3 separate regions of the Homo sapiens genome follow, and all the other regions are linked to region 2. Evidence: fine-mapped QTL for protein levels in blood plasma. A gene starts in region 2. Each other region holds a variant in brackets. All regions are shown on one strand. Distances are between the middles of the regions. Region 1 overlaps RTN4R (reticulon 4 receptor). Region 2 holds the start of RTN4R (reticulon 4 receptor). Region 3 has its middle 17 kb from the start of LINC00896.

What was found. PIP is the chance, under the fine-mapping model, that this variant and not a neighbour inherited with it causes the effect. Protein levels are from antibody-based Olink assays in UK Biobank. Linkage for the fine-mapping came from a reference panel and not from the study's own genotypes, which makes the PIPs less certain.
Region 1: its variant is fine-mapped to the plasma level of the RTN4R protein (UK Biobank, PIP above 0.99).
Region 3: its variant is fine-mapped to the plasma level of the RTN4R protein (UK Biobank, PIP above 0.99).

Annotation. Positions count from the first base shown.
Region 1 is chr22:20,244,085-20,248,084 of GRCh38, forward strand. All of the region lies in intron 1 of RTN4R (reticulon 4 receptor), which reads right to left. Among named protein-coding and RNA genes, the nearest start is that of MIR1286, 3.1 kb to the right of the region's middle. RefSeq lists enhancers at 2,768-3,358, 3,205-3,254, 3,265-3,374. The variant G/A (reference allele first, on the strand shown) is at 2,258.
Region 2 is chr22:20,266,098-20,270,147 of GRCh38, forward strand. It overlaps RTN4R (reticulon 4 receptor), which reads right to left and starts at 2,221. Exons shown (of 2, transcript NM_023004.6): 1 at 1,974-2,221. The coding sequence starts at 1,995. RefSeq lists an enhancer at 1,065-1,753 and silencers at 1,965-2,124, 2,215-2,374, 2,425-2,484.
Region 3 is chr22:20,221,593-20,225,648 of GRCh38, forward strand. No RefSeq gene overlaps it. Among named protein-coding and RNA genes, the nearest start is that of LINC00896, 17 kb to the left of the region's middle. RefSeq lists an enhancer at 1,392-2,059. The variant T/C (reference allele first, on the strand shown) is at 2,024.

The sequences.
Region 1 (4,000 bases), 22 kb before region 2:
CTTCAGCAGTGAGTCTATTAAAATGTGAATCCCCCTGGGAAGGTTATGGCTTATCAGCTAACACTTGAGTTATCAGCTAACACCTGCGTTGACAGCTAACACCTTCCACGGCAGCTGGCTAAGAGCAGGATTCTGCAGACATGAGGCCGGCTAAGTGCTGGGGTTGGAGCCGGGCAGGAGGAAGGAGTGGACCACAGGCCAGCTTCCCCAACCTAGAACTGTGACCCTGGGGCCCTCCTACCCACATGGGGCCCCTGCCCCACTGGGTCCTCTCTACTTGGGCAGACAGTGCAGTCGCCCTAAACGCAGAGCCCAGCAAGCCCAGCACGCGCAGTGACCGCTGGGCATGTGCGTCCTCCCAGACTCAGGTTCATAGGTCCTCAGACCCCCTCCCCACAGCCTGGGGGCCTCCTCTGCCAAACCCCCTGCCCCAGGGCCATTTGTTGGCTACCAGGGAGATGGCAGCCCAGGGATGGGGGTCCGGAGGCCCCTCCCTGGGTGGGCTGGGTGAGGAAAGCACCTGGCCTCGTGTTCTGTTTAAACTGCGGACACCCTCTCTGCTCTCTTTCTACACACTCTTCCTAGGAAGGTGGGGCCTGACCATGTCAGCTCCCCACTGCTGTCTCACCTGCTGTCACCAGAGGGAAAACTGTGCTATGTAAATGGCACTTCCTGTCCTGGGGCCAGGTGGGGTGGAGGCCCCACATGCTCATGGGGCAGGGTCAGGACTCACTGCCACATTATCGACCACACCACACCACTGACTGTGGGGGTCACCAACTGAGCCTTGTCACCAACCATACCATGCGGCTGACTGCACCCACCAAGACTAGCCACCCATGGTGGCCACGCCCGCCACATTACCACTGAGCCATGCCACCATCCCACCACTGTCCTGTGGCTCCAGGCCCGAAGCTGTGGGCTGTGAGTCTGGCTGTGGTCAGGGCTCAGCTCACTCGCCTTGAACCGAGCCCTGTGCTCATGGATCTCCCTCCCGAAGCAGCTGTGTGTCCACTCTAAACATGCCCCCAGTGAGGTGCCAGAACTGAGCCACACGGTGGTGCGGGGTCGGGGGAGACAGGGGAGGACATGGGGGAGTGGCCACGTGGCGCTCAGTTCTGCCAGGAAGTGGGTATTGGGCGCAAAGACACGGCTCGGTTCCTGCCGAGACAACTGCTTTTCGTAAACCAACTTCTGAGAGTCGGGTGAGGTGGGCTCTCTCCTCGCTGCAGCCATGGTAATTGGCTCCAGCCTGGCCCCCCTTGGGGCCTGCCCGCTGGTCTCCATGGCAACCCCTCTGCTGAGCGAGCAGGAGGGGGCATCTTTTTATGAGATAATCAAACCCAACTTTGCAGCATGGGTTTGTCTTCACAGCCGGGGCCCTGGGATGAGGGAGACGCAGCCAGGTGGGGGGAGGGTGTCCTCTGACCCCATCCCAGGGGCCAGACTGGTGACTCACCAGCCTCCTCCCTGGCCCCATGGTGGACTGCAGCCCCTCCCCACCCCAAAAGACCTCCCTGGCCCGTGGCCCCTGACCTGTCCCCTGGGCTCTGCAGCCTCAAGGCCACAAGGCCTCTCTGGCCCTCTCGCCCACCTTTCTCTCTCCTCTATCTGCCTGGCCAACTCTAATAGGATGCTCTACTGTCCTTCTGGAGATAGCATGGCCTCCCTGCCTGCCATCACCCCACTTTCCACTCTCACCCAGTCTCACCCTGGCCCCAGTTCTCACGGAGCCTCCAGTATGAGCTCTGTCCTTCCTGCCCCTTGCACACGGGGTGAGCAACCAGCCCTGCCATGGCCCCAGCTCTCACAGAGAAACCATGGATAGCGTGCCTGTCCACCGTCCCCACCCAGGTTGGCCCTGCGGCCACCTGAGCCTGCGAGGGCCCCAGAGGGCTCTCCTCAGCCTCCAAGCTGCACACAAACTGGTACATCTGTGCCTCTCCCACCCTCCCAGGCCAATTAACATCTCTTCTTTCCTCCAGGGTCTCCTCCTGGGACCTCCCCGGAGGATGGCCCTGCTGGCTGTCAGGGCTGGGTCATAGCTAGGAGCTCCTGTCTCAGCCCAGGCCTGGCTCAGGAGCCACAGTCAGGGGAGGGCTGGCTCTCCTGCCTGGAAGGCTCTGAGCTTTCCCAGCGGGGACAGTGACCGGATACTGACCCAGAGCCTCTCCCTGCGGCAGCCAGACTGGGCAGGGTAGGACCCAGGATCACCAGGCTGAAGGCCCAGGAGGCTGGGCAGCAAACAGTCCAGGAC[G/A]CATCCCCCTGACGGGAGCAACAGGCAGCCCAGGTGGGCACCTGCACCATCAGTTCTGGTGAGTGGAGGGCTGTTCACGTTCACTGCAGGAGGGAGTGTGGCGGGGGGAGGAGGAGGTGGGAGGAGAGCGAGGAGGGCAGGAGCAGAGGGGAGGGGTGGAGAAGGGGGATGGGGAGGTGGCGGTGGGAGGCTCTGGGGATATGCCCAGCCATTGGGCAGGCAGGCGGCTGCTGAGGTCAGCAGCTCACCCCAGCAGCCCAGGGAGCTGAGCCGAGCCGAGCAGGGATGGCCTTCTTCATGTGGTCCCTGGCCCCCACTGTTCCTGGGGCCCCGCCCACCTCCGTGCCCTCCCAAGCTTGGGCTGAAGTTCCACAGGGATGCCTTTGCCTCTGCCCAGCGATGCCAGGAGGCAGCACAGGGCAGGCAGCTGTGGAGGCGCCGAGCACCGGCTTTCATCCACGCACAGCTTGGTGCCCTCGGGCCCCAATGCCGCCCCTGGGCTGGGATCACCGGAGGGTCCCATCACCTGCTATAAAAAGTGAGACAGCAATACATTTACAGATTAGGAAACTGAGGCAGTGAGTGGTTAAGCCCTGCCCTGCTCCCACTCCAGACTACCCAGGTGGAGAGGCGGCCAAGGGAGACACTCACAGTGCTGCCCGGAGGGGCCACGAGGCATGTCCTGCCCAAGCAGGAAGGCTGGCGGCCTGGCTAGTAATGGGGGAGGGTGTGGAGGGGCTGGGCTGCAGGCCACGTGCAGAGGGGCAGGCAGCGCCCTCCTGTGTCATGGGTGGCCGGGAGGGGAATCTCCAGGGAGGCTCTGAGCTGCTGCTTCCCAGGGCTGGGGTAAGAGGCTGCAGAGGGCTGGGGCTGGGGGTGGGACCAGCTGTAGCACAGCCGGGACATCAGTCAGCTCAGGATCCTCTCGGACACCAGCCATGTCCCCGTCAGGCGGTCACGTCACAGACCACAGTTATGAGGCAGAACAGGAGGCCACAGCTCAGTGCACCAAGGCCAGAAATAGCTCCAGGCGGGGGTGGCGGGCCTATGTCATCCCCACACCACAGAGGGTCAGGGCACCCCTCCCACGCCTGCTCCCCACTCCTGGCCCTCCACCACTGACTCACTCCCCCCGCCCCCCACCCATCTGTCCCCCGATCCTCGCTTGCTTCTCACATGTACACCCACCCGCCATCCATCCTCAGGCCCACAGACACGTGCAGGGGCAGCCAGAATTCCCATGGTGTTTCCTGTGCCCTTCCAGGGCTCCAGGTGCTGCGGCAGGAGATTGGCAGCAGCTTCTGGTGGGGGCAGTCTGCCCTTGAGGGGTCCTGAGTCTCCTAGGGAAGTGAGTACCAGCCCCTGATGCCCTGGCCCTGGCCCCTGCTCCTTGTTGATCTTGGCTGCAGGGGCAGGGTAGGCAGACCAGGTCAATAACAGGCAAGGACACCTGCCATGGTGAGAGGTCACTGGACCCAGACTGAAGCAGCTCCAGGCCTAGCTAGCTACATGCTGTGGGGGAAACTGAGGCCCAGTGTGGGCAGAGCCTTCAGGACTGGCCTCCTGAGTGTGCCTAGTGCTTCCTCAGCCCCCTCGGCTCCACTCTTTGCCCTGGCCGGCAGGGCTCGTCCCTGCCCCGTGATGCTGGGCTCACCAGAGACAACGAGATGTAGGTAGGTCCAGGGCCAGCAGGCCAGGCCAGAGGCTGGGCCCTTCAATCCAGCAAATTCTCTTGGAGGGGGT
Region 2 (4,050 bases):
CCTCCTCACCTCAGTAGAGAAGAACAGGGAACAGTACCCCCTTTATAGATGGGAAGACTGAGGCTTAGAAAAAGAGACTGGCCAGCCCCACTGCTTCAGCTGCCCCTCTGCTAGTATGTTTCACCCTCACACAACCTACAAGGATAACCTGCTGGTCCCCACTCTATAGATGAGCCTCTGGTGGTGGCCAGGGGAGCAGGAGGTGTGGCCTGCCAATCCAAGCCCCAGCCCAGGGCCCTTGCCACAGTGCTAGTGGGCCACCCTTGCCCATCATGCAGCATGGCATCCATCTGCTCAGCACCCTACACAACACCGGAGGTAGGGGAGCCCACCACAGAACCCCTCACCAAGAAGGTCCTCACCATGGAGAAACTGAGGCACTGGAGGCGGGGCCTCTGCAGTCACGCTGGGTCACGTGCTCCAGTCAGCCAAGCTGCAGCGGCCACCAAGGGTGCCCAGGGTCTGGCCTGTTGGTCACAGTGTTGACCTCATGGCCTGAAATGGGTCTTCCCTGCCCAGACAGGTTCCAGCCCACCATCATCTATCTGCCTCAGCCCTGGTGGGTAGGGAGTGGCTGGGAGACCCTGCCCCTCACACCCTGGGCTTTGCGGTATTCAACGAGCCCCCAACACACATTCCAGGGCCTCTGCTCCAGATTAGGCCACAGCCTGTCTAGGCACACAAGGGGCACCCACACCCTGGAGGCAAAGAGACATGCCTATGTGCCCGCAGGCACACATGATCACGCGCACAGACACACGTGCAGATGCATACCAAGTTACACACACGCACACAAGCCCGAGGCGGGGACCCCCAGGACACGGAGGCAGGCAGGCAGAGGTGGGGCCCAGGATGTCTTGCCCCTGTCTGTGGGCCTGGCCTCCCCACTCAACAGACGAGCATGTGGGTGCGGGAGTGGTTATTGCGAAAGGGGCCCCAGCATGTGCCACCCGTGGAGACCACAGCAGGCATGCCGCGTGCATGCATGTGTGGCCGTGGGTGTGCAGGCGGGGGCGAGGACACAGATATGCACCCTCAGAGTCCGTGTGTGCACCCAGTGTTTGTGCATGTGCACACTGGGGCGGCGTTGGCTTGCATGTGCACCAGAGGTGTGCAAGTGTGCAGTCCGTGTAGACAAGTGCACGTGCAAGGAAACGTGTGTGCAGCCTGCGGCACCATGGACATCAGCAGGGCAGCCTGGGTGGGCACCTGGGGAGCACCCTCCAGGCGGGGCATGCCCAACTCACATGGAGCCCACCCTCCCTTGCCCGCACCGCGGGACCTCACAGCCGGTGGGGCGGGGGAGTCCCACGAGGGCTGCTAGGGAGGGGTTGCTGATTGCCCCACCGCCCCTGATTCCCCCAGCCAAGCCTCTCAATGTCCCTCGGGCTGCAGATGGCGGGCGTTGCTGCCTCCTCTCACCGCCCGCCCTGGAGGCAGCGCTGGGACAACCCTGTCCCCCACGCCCTCTACTGCCGCCAACGCCCCCATTCATCCCACTGTGGACTGACCTCGGAGAAACGGGAGGTTCTGAGCCCAGACCGTGAGGCTGGGGTGGAGGCGGCCCGACACCCCCACCCACCCTCGGTACCCACGTTTCTGCAAAAACCCGCTCGTTAACCCCTTGGTGGCCGGGGCGCTCCGAGGCCGGGCCCCGCCCTTCCAGCCCACGGCCCCCGCCCTCGACTTGGCCCAGCATCGGGGACCCTCGGACCGCCACCCTCGGCCCTGCCGAAGCCGTCAACTTTCCCGGGAAGCGGCAACTTTTCCTGCCGCCTCCGGCTCCGCCCTCCCGGGGCCGGGGCGCCAGCGGCCCCAGCCTGGCGCGGCACTGCGGTGGCTTTCCCTGCCGCCCGGCTACGCTTCCCTCGCCTCGGCAGCCCGGGACGGGCCCTGCGGCTCCGGGGAGGGGGCGAGCCGCCCCCCTCCGCGCCCCGCCGCCGGCCGGGCTCGGGTGCAGCGCGGACACTCACCTCCAGCGGACGCCCTCTTCATCGTAGGGGTTGGGCGGGGCGCGTCGGGGACTGAAAGTCGTTTCGGGGCGGGCGCCCGTCTCCCCGCGGCCGGGTCCGCATCCAGGCGCCGCCGCTACGGCCCGGCCCCGGCCCGGCCGCGGGACGAGGCTCGGCGCGCTCCGCTCCGCCCGGCTCTGGCTGGGCTCGGGCCGCGGGTGCGCAGGGCGCGCAGGGCGCACAGGGCGAGGGCGGCGGCGGCGCGGGGGTTGGGGCGTGGGCGGCGCGGCGGGCCGGGGCGCGCAGGCCGGGCCGCAGGAGGCGCTCAGCCCGCCCGGTGCACCGGCGCCGCGCGGTCCCAGACAAAGGCGGCGCATTCCTGAAGAGGCGGCGGCCCCTGCAGGCGGCGGAGGGGATGGCGGCCCGGGCCGGAGCCGGCCGGGGACGCGGGCCCGAGGGTGTGGCGGCCTAGGCTGGCCCGGTCCCCAAGCGGGCAAGGGCTTTGTCCCGAGGCCTAGGAATGGCCTCTGCCTGACCCACTCCCTTCCTGGCCTCACGAAACCCATGAATCCCCCGCCCCCTGCACAGAAGCCCCTTGCTGCAGCACGATCGCCCCCATTTTTCAGTAAGAAACAGGCTCAGGGCTTAAGAGAGTTCTGGGGGCCCTCCTGGGCCTTTGTGGCCCTCTCTGCACCATCCTAGAGAAGGGACCTAGGCCTGATGTTACCCGTAACCCTGCAGGGGTCCCCCACCTCTTCCCTTCTGCGGAATGGGGGCTCCAAACCCAGAAGACGCTCTCCGAGGTCACCTGCTTAGTATCCCCCCACTCTACCAAGCCAGCCCCCCACGGGCGGTGTGAGGCATGGGGCCAGAGAATCCAGTGACGCCCCTGCACACACCACACAGGGGTGCAGGTGTCCCTTCTCAATCTTCTGCTCGGGGCACCTACCGGGCCTCACCGATGAGCTCCTAAGTGCATCCCGGGGTCTTCAGACAACTGCCAGGCTGCCCCTGCACCTGGAGAAGTGCTGGGAGTCAGCTCAGCCGGGCTGGGTCCTCCCCAGGCCCACCCTGCATGAGAGGACCATGCAGATGAGGGTCTTGCAGGCCCACCTGGTGTCAGTCTGTAGGACCCTGACTCAAGGACGGAGTGGGCCAGCCTGATGCCTTGATGGCCCCCCTCAGAGCCCAGGTCCACTGATATGAAGCAGAGAGACCTGGTGACTGGGCACCCCTGTGCCCTCTGCCTGCCCCTGGCCATGGAGGTGGCCCTGAGGGAGATGAGCAGGGCGCAGGGCCGGTGACCTGCCTGCCTTGTGCAGAGGAAGTGAGGACCTCCCAGAGCCCTGGTGCTCCCATCTGATCCCAGTGGCAGGCAGCTTCGCAGGGTGGAGCCATGCTGGGTGGGCCCTCTGCCTGGTGTGGAGGCTGCACTGCCCACATGCCTCTGGCTGCCGCTCTGTGGCCCTCATCACTTTGGCCTGCTTTATCCCTATCACCCTTGTCCCAGCCTAGGCTTATGAGGGCATTGTGGAGTGCATGCCATTCCCAGCCACACAGAAGGTGAGGTGGGGCCCAGACACCCCCAGCCACTCTGTCCCCTGGCCTCCTGAAGGGGTGGGCTGTGCACACACTGCCACCTCCCCAGAGGGTGCTGGCTGCCGAGTGCCACCAGCTCAGCCCCTGAGGTGGCTCAACAGGTCCTCCCAGAGCCACACCAAGACGTCATCACCCATTGCACAGATAGGGAACCTCAGGCGAAGCTCACAGAGCCAGTGGGAGGCTGAGGCCTGACCCCCAGACAAGCATTCTTCTCCAGGGTCCCTGCACACAGCAGCCCCCAGGCTAGGAACTGAGCTCTCTCCACAGGGATGTATCAGACCCTAGATGAGTCACGTGGCACTGACCATCAGTCTGAGGACAGCGCTGGGGTGGACCAGGCTCCAGTCTCGGGCTGCTCTGTGCTTGCAGAAAGGCCTTGAGAGGACACTTGCTTGCTTACTCCGCAGGCGTCTCTTCAATTACCAGTGACCCAGAGCAGCCCACTATAGCTGAAGATTGTGACCCCACACCCTATCTCATAGGTTTAAAGCCCCTC
Region 3 (4,056 bases), 45 kb before region 2:
CTGTGGATGGGTCAGAGGGCTCATGTGCTGTGGCAGTTGGCCAGGGAAGGTGCATTTGGAGAGTGTCAACATACTGTTTGTCTTCTGCTGTGCAAACTCTCCTCGACTTGTAATTTAAAACTAAAAGTGTTTCCGACTTAATTTCTGAGAAAGCACCAAGTAATGGGATTTGTGGATGGACTTGAAGAGCCAAGAAATCAACACTGACTGCCTCTCGACCTGGAGAATTACGGAGCCCATGAATTCTCTGGGCCTCAGCTCTGGTCCCAGGCTCTGTGCACAAAGAGAGGTGGGCCTGGTGGGTGGTGCGGAGCTTGGCCTTGTACTTCGTGGCTGGCTCAGCCTGCCCTCCTGGGACAAGTGGCTCTGCCGGGTTCTGTGTGCCTCCTGGCATCTCTCTGAGGGGAGCTCCCAGCCTCTGCCTAGAATACCTGGGCAGCGTGTTCAGACCTGGGGCCCCCTGCACCATCACCCCATTCCAGGCTGGGAAGCTTGAGGACCCAGGCAGGGAAGCTTGAGGACCCAGGCAGGGCCCCAGTGTGCCACAGGGCTTGGCCACTGTGCAACTGCACTGCAGCTCTGGCCTCTGGCCGGGCCTTGCTTACCGACCTCTGCCCTCTGCCGTGTGTCCTCCACCTTGGCCATGCACAGCGGGGGCTAGGCGGGCACATGGTGGAGGCTGCCAATGGTGCCCTGGCAAGTTCTCTTCGCCCTCGTGCCAGCCACTCCAGGGAGCACCAGGGATTGAATAAATAACTGCCACGTTTATTAAAAAATAAATTTGGTGCCTAACGGAAGTGCTGTTTCTATACATAGAAAAAAATGTTTAAAATAAAAACCAAAACAGTTCTCAAAGGCGCTGTGGCATTAATTATTCATCGCTTGCTAATGAAAACATGGCTTTGCAGGCGTGGCCCCCACCTCCCTCCAAATAAGACTCGGGCTCAGGGAAAGCCTGGCCTTAAGGGCAGGGAGCTGGTGACCCCTGAATAAAATGGGGGTGGCTGTGATATCCTCCATGGGTATTTAGGGAGCACCCAGTGTGTGCCAGGCTCGGCTGGCCTGGGGGAGTGCACAGTGGGCACTGGTCACCAGGCAGGCACAGGGGGCAGTCTGCACCCCTCCTTAGTCAGCCTGGGGAATGGCTTGGGGTCTGACCTGGAGGAGGGAGGGAGCAGCAGGAGGGGCTGGCTGGGCAGCAGAGCCACCTCTTGGAGGAAAGAAATGGGGACAGAGGCCACTCTGGCCAGCACCAGAGGACAGTGGCTACATGTCTGGGCACCCAGGCCAGGGGCCTGGCAAACCCCCACAGGGTGGGTGGGTGAGGCCCTGTTCTAAGTCATTTGATGACCCAGCCACCCTCTCAGATGCTGCTGGATCCCAGACAGAGGGAGAGAGGGAGGCTGCAGGCCTTGCCGGAACCTAGGCGTGCCATGCATGCCCCAGCAGCCAGAACCAGCCATGTGGTGGTGCCACACCAGAAAGGGCCGGCCTGCCAGGCAGTCAGGGGCAGATGGGAGCAACTTGGGAAACAGCAGCAGGAGCCTCCACTCCCTCTGCCTCCACCTCTCCAGCAGACTATATGGCACACCCTGCCCAGCTGTGTGCAGCAGGGAAATTTGTGCCAGGCCTCGGGCACCTGAGCCCACACTGGGCATCGCTGTCCTGTCACTGATCCTGGGCACTGATAGGAACTGTGAACAAAGCTCGGTCCAGGGCCCTGTGGACTGAGCTCCCCATCCTCAGGGCCCGGGAGCCCCTCCTCCTGCAGTCACCTGGGGCAGCCCTATCTCTGTGGGGAGGCCTGGAGCATTTGTTCTTTTGTTCATTCATTCGTTTATTTATCCATAAATGCCCCCGAGCTGGCTGCCTGGTCTCCTGGGGAGAAGGGATGCTGATCCCATCAGTCACCTGCCTGAGCAGGGGGTCTGGGAGGCTGAGAGGAAGCCTCTCTGAGCTGCTGTGGGTGCAGGTGGTATCCAGGGCGACAGCTCCTGGGCAGGAGATGAGCTGTGCCCTGAGG[T/C]GGTCAAGTGGAACCCCAGCAGGGGCCTTTGAAGCTCCGCCAGCCCCTGGGGCAGGTCAGGGATGGGGAAGAGGCTGCAGGGGGCGGCAGGAGAGTGAGGCTCCATCTCTGCTGGGTGGCTCCGTCCTGGTTAGCAAGGTCTCTCGCGTCCTGGCCCCTGTGCTGGCTCCTGGGACGTGGAGTGGAACCCGCATCCCTGCTGCCCATGTGTGAGGACCCGGGCTGCCAGGGCTCCAGCTGGGCCCCAGGCTCAGGGTTTGTGTGCTGGAGACCCAGCAAAGCTGGACAGAGCCTGGCGGGACCTGGCTCTGCGATGGCCCAGCTTGGTGTACTCAGAAGGCCTGATGGGAGCTAGCCTGGACACCTTGGCCTGATTTAAGCCTGGGAGCCGCGTAAGGGGAGGCAGTTGGGCCTGCCGCCGAACCGACGCCCCGCTGCCCCCACTTGCCTCTCCCGCCGGTGGGCCTGACCTTGCTGGAAGCATCCCTCAGCCTGGTATGGATTTCCTGTCTTCACCGAGGCCGCAGGGCCAGCCGGGCGCAGGAGCCGAGCGGTGGTCAGGCCCGGGGATGGTTTTTTGTTTGTGGGGGCAGGGGCTGAGGGGACCCAAACCTTCCAGAGCTGGGGGGTTTTCTTCTCACCTGTCACTCCGTGGCTCCCTTTGGTGGCTCTTTGTCTGGCATGGGTGCTGGGCCCACCCTGCGGTGTGGGCAGCTGTCCAGCCTAGAGCCTGCCTCTGACCCTGGTCCTATCCTCAGGGCCCCTTCCAGGGCTGGAGCAACAGGGACACAATTGCTGAGCTCAGCCTGTGTCAGGTGCACAAGTGACCTCACTTGGGAGACAGTGCAACTGCAGTGGGCCTAGAGAGGGCTCTTCAGCTCCCAGTCACACAGCCAGGCCTGGAGAGGTACACATCCTGGTCCCTGATTCCCCCATCGGCACTGGGTGGACTGAGGAGTGGAGTGGGGACCCTGGGTGGGGGAGAGGAAGGAACTGGGCACAGGGGGAGAGCCAGGGACCAGAGGGCATCATGGAGATGAAAGGACAGGCGAGCCCAGGAGGGCACACACCATGGCACGGCAGGCAGACAGACATAGACATAATGCCCATATGGCAGCATGATCTCTCACACACACACATGCTCACATGGGCAGCACACTCACACACACGTGCATATGGACGGCACGCTCACATACACACGCACACATGGGCAGCACGCTCACACACACACGCACACATAGGCAGCACACACACACGCACACATGGACAGCAGGCTCTCACACACGCACACATGGGCAGCATGCTCACACACACACATGCACACATGGGCAGCATGCTCTCAGATACATGCACACATGAACATGGGCAGCACACACGTACACATAAGCAGCATGCTCACACATGCACACATGGGCAGCACGCTCACACACTTGCACACATGGGCAGCACACACACACGCGAGCAACACGCTCACACACACAACATGGGCAGCACACACATGTACACATAAGCAGCACACACAATGCACACATGGGCAGCACACACATGCACACATGGGCAGCACACACATGCACACATGGACAGCACACTCACACGTGTACACATGGGCAGCACGCTCACACACATGCACACATGGGCAGCATGCTCACACATGCACAGATGGGCAGCACACACACACATGCACACATGGACATCACACACGGACATCACACACATGCACACGTGGACAGCATGCTCATACATGCACAGATGAGCGGCACGCTCACACACTATGAGCAACAAGCTCACACACATGCACACATGAGCAACAGACACGCACACAGGCACAACATGGGCAGCACACACACATGCATATGAGCAGCATGCGCACACATATGCACACATGAGCAGCACGCTCACACATGTAAACAGGCAGCACACACACAAGCACACAAGAGCAACACACACACATGCACAACATGGGCAGCACACACATGCACACAAGCAGCATGCTCACACATATGAACACATGGGCAGCACGCTGACACACACAT